Regions from separate parts of the Homo sapiens genome. Here region 2 is linked to region 1. The links come from fine-mapping of genetic effects on gene expression. A gene starts in region 1. The other region holds a variant in brackets. All regions are shown on one strand. Distances are from middle to middle.

Region 1 (5,367 bases):
TGCAGCTAGGTCCACACGAGCTCTAACCCGAACAGCATCCATCCTCCTAGAAGCTCCCTTCTGCCCAGAAAAGGGCTAGGTCTAATTCAGACCACCCCAATCAAGGCCCATGACTTTGGAAGTTCGGTGTCAGAACAGGTCTGCCTGCCAGGCTCCGGAGTCTCTGGGTGAAATGTATGGAGCCCTAGACCTAAGTCAATGGACCTGAGCCCCGGAAGGTGGGGAAATCCAACAGCCTGAGGAAGTCCCTACAATTGTGTGAGGCAGCGAAGCATCCAGTGGGCAGCCCTAGAGGACCTGCTGAGGTGGGGTAAGCCCACAGCTCACCCCAGGGCCATGCTGGAGTCCCAGGAGACAGTGCCCCCACCACCACCCAGGAGCTGCAATTCATGGGCACCAGGGACCCACTAGGGGAGGAAGTGCCACAGCAGTCCTAGTAAGAGTGGCCAGACAGCAGGCGCCCTGCTGCTCCCAGGGTTGGTCTGGGTCACATGTCTCCTTGCAAACCCACACCCAGCTCAGGGAGAGGACAAGGGGTTCCCTGTACAGGCCCTGACCCCCAAATCCCACCCCTCCGGGTCAGCTGCCCACACCCTGGGCCCTGCTGCCCACCTGGTCCAGACAGGCTGAGGCTCTGGGGCAAAAGGTGCCCAGAAAGAAGCTTCTTTCAGCTTCCTCCCAGGGTCAGGGTAGGGGAAGACCAGGGTACAGGGGAAAAACCCCAAAGTAGGGCCTTTAGATAAAAAGGGGTGATTTCCCAGTGCTTCCCTTGACTCTTGGAACCCCTCAGCCCCAGCACCCCAGGCCCCATAACTACTGGGGGTGGGGGCAGGAAGGGGAGGTCTTGCCAGAGGGCCTCCTGAGGGGCTACAGTTTCCTACATCGATACAGCCGAGCCCTCTCTGGTTCTGGTCACTTATCCCCATTCTGGGCCCTCGAGGAGCCCAGGCCCAGCCCAGTCCTCCGCCCCTGCTCCCCCCTCCCCTCCGCCCCCACCCCTCCCGCGTGCTCCGCTGGGGCACACCCCCTGGGCCAGCCCGCGGAGCCACCCCCACCTCCAGAGTCGGCCTCTGGACCTCTCCTCCTGCTGCTGGAGGAGCAGCACCCCGGTCCTCGCCCTGCTGTGTTCAGCGTGGCCGCGAGGCTGGGAAAGTCCCCCACTCCAGCCTCTGCTCCCAGGTACCCGCTCCCGCCCCTCCCGGGGTCCGGAGACAACCATCTCCCCACGCATCCCGGCCATGCTAGCCTCACTTTTCCTCCACGTTTAGCCTCTTCATTGTTGCCTTCTTAAGTTCTGGGACAGGACCTGAGGAAACCAGCCCAGGAACTATTGCGCCCCATCCTTTTCCGCTGCTCGGGGGACGAGAGTCTGCCATTCCCGGCCGCGAGCCCAGGGACGCAGCCTCTACCTGACACCATCTTCCCCCAAACTCTTGCACAGTTCCTGCCATTGGCCTGAAGATCCCGGGGGATGAACGCTTTAACCTCAACCTCTTTTCCGAAAGGGTGAGGGTGGCCCGGTAAGAGCAAGGGCGAGTGCATCGAAAGTAAGGATCGGGCCTCGCTCCTCTGTGGTCCAAGCCAGCCTCCAGCGGGGCTCCCGGGAACCCCCATTCTGGGCGATGGCGAGGGGGAGGGAGAGCAGCAGAGCCGGCGCCCCCCGCAGCGCTGCCCACTCCGCCGCCTGGGTCACTGGGCTCCCCGGGCGCCAGCACCCCAAACCGATCGGGGCGTGGGAGGCGCTTTGGAAGTCCCAGGCCGGCCGGGCGCACCCTGCTGTAGGCACCCACCCGAGCTCGCTTTCCAGGCGCAGCTGGACGCGGACCCCGCCCTACTCCAGTCTTCATCCCGCCGCCCGCAGGTGCCTGGGGGGCGCGGGGCCCAGTCTAGGCCTAGACTTGGGGGCAGTAGCCGGCACCGCTCCCGCCACCCTCGGGGCGCGCCGGGCGCGGACGCAGAGAGGAGAGCGCGGCGGCCGGGACCCACCTGTCTGCGGTGCGCCTGCGTGGCTGCGCCAGGGAGCACCGGCCGGGCGGCGGGACCAAGCTGAGCTCTGCCCAGGCTGCGCCTCCCGCCGGTCCGCCAACCTGCCGGGCACTTCCGCGTCTTGCCGCCCCCGCCCCTGGGCAGCTGCTGCTGAGCTCCGGGCGCGGGCAGTGCCCCGCCCCGCCCCGCGAATCCACTCCGGGCCCCGCACTGACCTGGCAACTGCAGATCCGGGCTGAGCCTCGGGCCAGGCCCAGGGCCTCCAGGGAGATGCCAGACGGCGCGGTGCCCTAGACTGGCCACTGGCTCTTTTGGCAATCTGGAATGGCAAAACTGTCATTTGACAACCCCGTACCTCCCGCTGCAGTGCTCAGTTGGGCCCTGGGAGAGGGTGGGGTGCTTCCCCACTCTGGTCCTCCGGGGCTGCACACAAATGAGGGCGCAGTGTGGCCGACCCACAGCTCCAGGCCCTCCTCTCGCCTGCCTACACCCCTGGCGAGGGTGGCTCTCGCCCTAGAACACAGTCGCTGCCCCCAGGATCCAGACACCCCTTCCAGATGTGCTTGCAGGCGGGAATCCTCTAGTCACTCTGTGCCTTTCTCATCCTCAAACCCTGCACCTGTCTCGCCCCAGCTCCCCTAAGTCGCCTTCCAGTCATCCCAGGGGCAGCGGCGTGGTCGCCTGTCCCACCTCCTCTCACTACTACCTTGACCGTCGACCTGTGGTTCTGAACCGTTTTCGATTCCATAAAGAACCTCACCCCAGAACCTCCACCTTCACACACCTCCTGTTCCTTCTCATGGAATGTTCTTCGCTTGGTAACTCTTGCTCTTCAAAATTTCTGTTTCTGAAATTTTCAGCATCGCCTTCTCTGGAAAGTCTGCCTTGACTTCCCCTCCCAGGTGGGGTTCCAGGGTGCAAATAGCTTCCTGGTTGATTTTGCTTATGATTTTGTTATGGATTGCCAGGGGTTTGGTCCAGGTCTGGCTGCTCACCGCACAGAAAGCCTATCACTGAGACAGCGAGTATTGCCAGGGAAGACTTTATTCCGGTGACATCAGCCAGTGAGCTGTTGAGAGGGGAGACAAACCTCCAATCCATCCCTCCCCTTGACTAAAGTTAGGGGCTTATATAGCAGGGAAGGAAAACAGGAGGGACAAGGAAGAGGAATTGGTCAACAGGCAGCAGGTGTACTGATGTAAGTGTCTCAAGCTTCAGTTCTATGAGCATCTGGCTTTTTGGAAAATTCAGCGGGTTTCAATTTTGATGTCTGATTTCCACTCGAATCAGCTTACTCAGGAACCTCCCTCCTGTCTTTTCATTGTTCATTTTATTTTATTTTATTTTTTGATATGGAGTCTTGCTCTGTCACCCGGGCTGGAGTGCAGCAGTGCGATCTCAGCTCACTGCAACCTCTGCCTCCCCAGTTCAAGCGATTCTCCTGCCTCAGCCTCCCAAGTAGAGACGGGGTTTCACCATGTTGGCCAGGCTGGTCTCGAGCTCCTGACCTCAGGCGATCCACCCGCCTTGGCCTCCCAAAGTGCTGGGATTACAGGCGGGAGCCACTGCGCCAAGCAGAGCCTTGTATTTTTAACAAATAAAGTAGTATTTGTTGATGAATCAGAACTTTGACCTTCCCTCCCCTCCCTTCTCCTGGGTTGAACTTTACCTTTAACAAGTTAAAAAAAGACACTCATGTGTTAACGTTTTTTTTTTTTCTCTTCTGTATCTCTCCCTCTTTCCTGACCTTTGAAGCCCTAATATGAAGTCGAAATATCATTATATATAAGTATTTTATTATTTGTATCTGCTGAGTATTTCATTATTTCATATTTTTAAAATTTAAAGTATGGATGGGGAAAATGTGAATGGGTAGATCGTTTTATATTTCTTTCTTTAAAAATGAAATTGCTAGGCCAGGCACGGTGGCTCACATTTGTAATCCCAACACTTTGAGAGGCTAAGGCAGGCAGATCACTTGAGTCCAAGAGTTCGAGACCAGCCTGGGCAATATGGCAAAACCTTGTCTCTACAAAAAATACAAAAATTAGCCTGGCGTGGTGACACACACCTATAGTTCCACCTACTTGGGAGGCTGAGGTGGGAGAATTGCTTGAACCCAGGAGGCACACCACCGCACTCCAGCCTGGGCGTAGAAGTGAGATCTTATCTCAAAATAATAATAATAAAATGAAATTGCTATTTCAAAAGTGGCTCCCCACAAAATGGGAACCTTTTTCACTGGAGGTCAGTTATGCTTAATAGAAAAATATTCTATGCTGGTCGTATCTGGAGCAATAGCTAAGAAGAGCCTTCTTTTGTTATCAAATACTCCTCACCCATTCTGAGGGACCGTGAGACCCTAGAATTCTGCCCTCTGCCCCCTTCCCACTGTCCATCTTGCTCAGGTGAGGCCCCTTCCTTAGAGCCTCTGAACCTCAAGAAGCAGCACGGGCTGCGTGCAGAGAAGGGGCTTGCACCTGGCTTTGCTGTATTCCAGCCAAGTGGCCTTAAGTAGGACCTCAAATCTCATTTCCTCGTCTCTAAAAGGGGGATGATGTTACCAAGCCGGCAGCATTGATATGGGGCTCCCGGGATAGAGGCTATGCAGGGGCTCAGCTTGGCTCAGATCCTGACTTCCCTCAACTGAAAGAACCTGAGCCAAGAATCATCTGGGGCCAGAGACATGGCCCAGGAGAAAGGAAGGACAGAGAGCAGCACTCCAGTGTTTCCAGGATCTGGGATCCCTTGGCCTCCCAGTGCCATCCTGGGGGTGGAAGGGCAAGTAGAGGGGAAGTGAAGCCACACCCGGCCCTTGTGTGAGCACTCCCATTTCCCCTTGATGGGCCAGGAGGCGGTGGGGACAGGGAGGTCTGTCCGGGCCCCCCACTCCCCACAGTGAGATGGCCCCTTCCCCCATTTCCCCTGGCTGGAATATCACAGACTGAGGGTGTGGTAGGAGGCACCCTCCCCTGACTCGAGTAGAAGCTACGCTGTGTGAGCGAGTGTAGAGTGGGGTGGCTGGGGTGGGGAGCAGGGGGGAGGAGGGAAGCCGTGTCACCAAAGGGAACTGAAAGAAACCCAGAGGCCCACTGGGCAGCTGAACAATGCACCCTGGCTCTGGAACAGCCCCCTTCAGTGCAGCCTGGGTTGATGACAACTGCCTTTGCCTCTCAAAACCTCTACCCCAGGAAACCCACCCCCTCGGCCTGGGCTCTCAGGGGTCCCCAGGCTGACTGTCCTATTTCTCAGAAACCCCGAGTTTCTGAGAACTTGTTGGCTGGACATCAGGCTCTGAGGTCAACAGGTCTGAGTCAAATCCTCACTCTGCAATCTAGAATTGCGTGACCTAAGCAAGCCATTCACTCCCCCAGAAGCCCC
Region 2 (5,367 bases), 680 kb after region 1:
ATAATAGAAGCTAAGATGCCCTGAAAAGTAAACATGTTACAAAGTGCAAGCAGGGTTCCCTGTGGGCCCCTGGGCACGGCCCCCCTCAGCTCATACCATTTCCCACCTGCTGTCAACTGCACCATGCATTTGGCTGTTCAGCTGCTGTGGTAAATACCCCACCTTGGCACATGGGTGAGTGCGGTTTGACCACTGGGAATGCAAGATCCCTGAGGGCAGGCCTCAATCTTAATGTTTATTGGGTGAGCTTCTCCAGCCTATAGCACCAGTCAGGGCTGAGCATGAAGCAGGTGCTCAGTCTTAAAGTTAACTGCTTTGATTCAAGTTTCCTTGGACAGATCCACCACCCACTGTGTGATAGCAAAAACACAGCAGCAGGATGGTGGCAGACCCCAAACCTCCTCTTTCATCTTCCTGAATGTGACCTCCAGTGGGAAGGGCCATCCTGGTGGCCTGGCCTGGGGAGTCCTGGCACTCGCCTAGCAGTGCTTGTCAGGTCTCAGGACCACCTGCTAAAGGAGTTTTCTTCACCACTGGAGTAAAAACCCCCCAAGATTTTTGGTAATTTTGGCCTTGCTTGGGTGAGCCAATCAGACAAGAACTACAATTTGGCATGCAAGCCCCAAATAGGAACACTGCCATGTAATAAACCCAGAGTGTGATCAACCCTGGACCATTCAGAGGGTCACACCAAGGACCCCTGCTCTGAAGATCGCAGTCACCAGTGTGGGACCGTCACTCCATGATAGGAAAGACCACTCCCTAGCAGTCGGAGAAAGCCAGAGCTTACCACTGCCCCAACAAATGGCTTTCAGCCCTTTGCGTTTTATTCTGGATGGATTTGAAGCAAAGCATCAGCTTCTCCAGGCTCTTTGGGGTCAGCCAGGGCCAGAAACTTCTCTCCAGGGGGTGCCTGGCCAGGCCTCACAACCCCCCTGAAAGAGCTATTTTCATGAAAAACATCCTAAGCAATTGCAGAAGATAAGAAAATGATCTCACTCCTTCCAAAGAACCCACCACACAAATGTTATTCAGAAAACACATTCTAGATCCTTCTCCCTTCTGCCCAAACATTCCCCACCCCTGGGTGCAGACACCTACATATGACACTTGACAAAACAAATCTTTTTAAAATAACCTGGTCCTTGGAGATCCACTCAGGGCAACACCATTGCAAACACTGTGATGTAACATCAGTCACAGTAGAAATGAAACCAGTTACGAGAGAACTAACTGGAGAGCCACCTTTGCCAGCTCTTGCTCAGATGAACCCAACCCTCGAGTCACTCAAAATGGGTTCAGCTCAGCCAGACCCATCTATGGGATTGGAAACTGCACTCCAGGGAGACCCCTGGCCCTGGCTGACCCCAAAGAGCCTGGAGAAGCTGGTGCTTTGCTTCAAATCCATCCAGAATAAAATGCAGAATAAATAAACATGTGCTTCCAGCTTGTGTTGCTGGGAGTTCCTGCGTGTGTGGATGTGGTCTTCATGGAACTCCTTGGAATTCTCAGAGGGAACCTTGTTCTGGTCATCCAAAGGCTCTGCCTACCCCTCTGCCCTCTCTGAAATCACCCCTGGTCACATTGAGGCATTCAGTGAGGGGGAGATGGGTCAAGAGGGGACAAGACAACTCTTGTTGATGGCTGAAGACCTTGGTGGGAATCCCAGATGCAGCCCACTCTTTGCTGGGTGGACCCCCTTCCTGGTGAGAATAGGATCCTGTGTATATATCTTTGGTTTCAAGCAAAAGGAGGCTTAGGGTCTTATGCCTTTGGAAGAGTGGCTTAGAGGAGTCAGGGAAATTGACAGAGTCCTGGATAAGGGGTGTCCATGCAATGCTCTTCAATCCTGGAGATACCTGGAAGCCAGAGTTCCTTCCCTTAACGTAGTCCTTGCAGGAAGAGTGACCTTCAAGGCCTCAGCACCCAGGGCTGAGGTCCAGCTGCCACAGCATGTCCTGCAGAGACCCCTGCAGCCTGCTCAGGGCCACCACCTCTGTGGAGTAGCCTGAAGCTTCCAGGACACCCCCCAGGCTGTCCAAGGTCTCCAGGCCACTGGCCCAGGGCAAGTGGCAGCTCTTAGAGAAGGCCAGCACGTGAAGAAGATCCCGGAGGTTCTCCAGGTCGTTGGATATTTGGATCACGTTTCTGGAAGGCATACTGGTGAGGATCTGTTGGTAGACTGCCAGTGTCTGGTCCATCTTGGATAAGGTCAGGATGGGGTGGAGCCCAGGAATGAAGTCCAAACCGGTGACTTTCTGTTTGGAGGAGACTGACTGCTATGCAGGAGGAAGAGGGAGAACAAGTGCTCAGCATGTGGGAGGAATCGCTCTCAGAGCCCTCTGCCTTCCCCGTGGGCATGGAGGGTCATTCTCTGGGCTGCCT[C/T]CTTCCACCCTCCCTCACCACTTTGGCTCAGGCCCTTGTATCCTGCACCCAGGTGACTGCCAAGCCTCTAAGCTGGTCTCCGAGATTCCTGCTTTTCCCACACCATCCTTCCCTCCACTTCCAGGCCAACTTTCCTAGGTCATTCCTTTCTCTACATGGCCTCTGCTGAAGAACCAGCCATGGTTTCATATGTTTTATTTAGTGGAGTCTGTTCCCCAGGCATCTGAGGTCCTCCATAAGCACCCCCACCCCCAGCCTTCCCTAGTCCCTTCTACCCCCAGCCGAGTCCTCCCTCCCAGTCAGCTTTTCCAGGCAGTCCCTCCTCCTTAGAGATCAAGGCCGTACCCTCAGTGAGGCCCCCCAACCCTGCTCCAGTGACTCCAGTTCCGGGAGGCTCTCCCCATCCATCTGCCCACAGCACTGAGGCTGACACCTCCGTGGTTACTACCCGGGGCTCCCGTGATATTGTGTATTACACCACCCAAGGTGGGGCACTCGGGATCTATCACGTGCAGTCTTGCTGAGTGGCTAATATGCCCAGCTAATTTTTTTTTATTATTTTTAAAGGAGACAAGAGTTTTTATCTATAAAATGCCCAAGACTCTATCTAGTTCTGAGCCATCTTTGCTTCCAGACACCTAACTTCTCCCTAACTGCCCAAGACTACCATAAGACACCCACAATGACCAGGAGACGTGGAAGTCTCCAGAGAGCTCCATGCAGGGGGTAAGGAGGATTCAATTGCTTTAGCTAATTTAGGCCTCATAACAACCTTGTGAATAGTGTGTGATATCCCCATTATCCAGATGATGAAAACAAGGCTTAAAGACAGTAAGGAACTTGCTGAAGATCTCACAGACATCAGAAGTGTGAAGATTCAAACTTAATCTTCCTAATTTCAAATACAGACCTCATCAGGAAAATGGCTGAAGGTCTAGGCCTGCTGGACCCCAGAGAAAAGACCAGGGTGGGCACTGACTGCTATTTGCAAATCAGTAGAGGGTTGAATGTGAAAAAGGGTAGACTCGCTCTTTTGGGTATCTTTGAGCGGCAGGGCCAGAGATCAGCTGGAACTACAAGAACCCTAATGACAAGCACATCTAGAGATGGGATAGAGGCCCTGAGGAGATGCTTCTGGGGGTCTTGTTCCTGCCAATGGGACACAAGGAACTTCACAGCTCCCTCTGGTCGTAGGCACTAAGATTCAAGGAAGTGAAGTCAGGGAGGAAGGCGAGCGCAGAAGGTGGGGACAGAGGGGACAGGAAGGAAAGAGACAGTGGCTGTGCCTGCATGTGGCTCAGCTAATCGCTGAGGCCTGGGTTTCCCCTTGGTAGGTTGAAAATAAGCACGTGAGGCCTCATGAGAATCCTATGATTTTTTTCTTATCTTTAATTTTTATTTTTTTAAAAATTAGAGAGAGAGGTCTTGCCATGTTGCCCAGGCTGGTCTTGAACTCCTGGCCTCAACTGATCCTCCTACCTTGGCCTCCTAAAGCAATGGGCTTACAGATGTGACCCATCATGCCTGATCAAATCCTATGACTTTTATTTATTTATTTATTTATTTTGAGACAAGGTCTCACTCTGTCACCCAGGCTGGAGCACGGTGGCATGATCAGGGCCCACTGCAGCCTCAACCTCCCAGGCTCAGGTGATCCTTCCATCTCAGCCTCCCCTAGCTGGGACCACAGGTACACACCACCATGCCCAGCTAACATTTTTTATTATTTTTGTAGAGATGGGGTCTCCCTATGCTGCCCAGGCTGGTCTCGAACTCTTGGGCTCGAATGATCCTCCTGCTTTGGCCTCCCAAAGTGCTGGGATGACAGGTACAAGCCACCACACCCAGCCCAAATCCTATGATTTTTAAATGGAAACATGTAGCAAAATCAAATGTTCTTGGAGTGGTTTAGAATTAGAACCACTAACCCCTGGAATCTCAGCAGGCAGAGGGGCCAAAAGAAACAACCAGAAAGAGTGGAGCCCTGTGCTTTCAAATCCTTCTCAGCTTCCAGTAGGTGCCTGGCATTCAGGAGGCGTTCAATAAATGTTTCTTGGACTATCTGGGTCCAGTGCCACTAGGAGCCAGTGCTGGGCTGGCTGCAGTTCTACTTTGTCCCCGCATACTCTCCTTACCGTGTGTGAAATGTCATTGATCCTGGTGACAATTGTCTTGATGAGGGTTTTGGTGTCATCTTGGACTTTTTGGATGGGCACAGCTTGGACATAGAAAAGATAGGGCCAAAGCCACAAGAATCCGCACAGGGTTCCCCAATGCATTTTCCTTCCCAGGATGGGCTTCTTGGGCCTGAAAACAGAAGGAACCACACACTGCAAGGAGCCGGTATCTCAGAATACACCCATCTTCACATTACCAACCACATTACCAGACGGGGATGAAAATCAGCTTTGCTTTCTGCTCTGGCTACCATCCCCTCAAAGTCAAAGACAATTCATGATCTACATATGTATTAATGAAATGCATCCCCTTAGAAAGAGGATTATTGTCTGGTCAATAAAACCACCATGAGGTATCCTGTAGACCACAGAGCTGTGAGGCCAGGGTGTGATCAAATGGACATGGTAGGGATGATGTAGACTTCATTGCATGCTCGAGGGAAAGATAACAGACTTTTAAGGTCTGGTTTGAACCCAGTCATTTACTCACTGCATAATTTTAAACATATCACATAACCACAAAATACTCCACCTTCATCCCTGTAATATATCTATCTCTAGGCTTTTATGAGGATCAAATTATCTGATGCACGTGAAAGGGCTTAAAGGTGTTGTGAAATGTGCTCTATCATTACCCTATCATTAGCGATTATGCTACTCACCCATCCTCTGCATTTCTCCCTCACACCAGCCTGCTGATACTCTGTGAGGGCCTTTACCACTTGCTTCCTTACGTCCTTTCTCTCCCACCCACTGGGAGCCTGAATCCCACTAGCACTTACTGACCTTCTAAATAATATGTCAG

Alleles and levels. Positions count from the first base shown, and alleles are read on the strand shown. Sizes are in standard deviations (SD) of each study's normalised expression.
For the expression in ovary of the gene that starts at base 2,109 in region 1, allele C in region 2 goes with a lower level than allele T (moderate effect, 0.56 SD a copy in GTEx).

The links. PIP is the estimated chance that this variant, and not a neighbour inherited with it, causes the effect.
Region 2: its variant is the best candidate, but not a certain one, in a credible set for the expression of IRF5 in ovary (GTEx, PIP 0.79).

What each region holds. Positions count from the first base shown.
Region 1 is chr7:128,934,669-128,940,035 of GRCh38, reverse strand. IRF5 (interferon regulatory factor 5) reads right to left here and starts at 2,109. Exons shown (of 9, transcript NM_001098629.3): 1 at 1,987-2,109. RefSeq lists enhancers at 1,133-1,202, 1,236-1,819, 3,487-3,781, 5,197-5,316 and silencers at 1,483-2,242, 4,977-5,066.
Region 2 is chr7:128,251,316-128,256,682 of GRCh38, reverse strand. LEP (leptin) reads right to left here. Exons shown (of 3, transcript NM_000230.3): 2 at 4,521-4,692; 3 at 1-2,279. The coding sequence starts at 4,664. The coding sequence ends at 1,920. Among named protein-coding and RNA genes, the nearest start is that of LEP, 13 kb to the right of the region's middle. The variant C/T (reference allele first, on the strand shown) is at 2,386.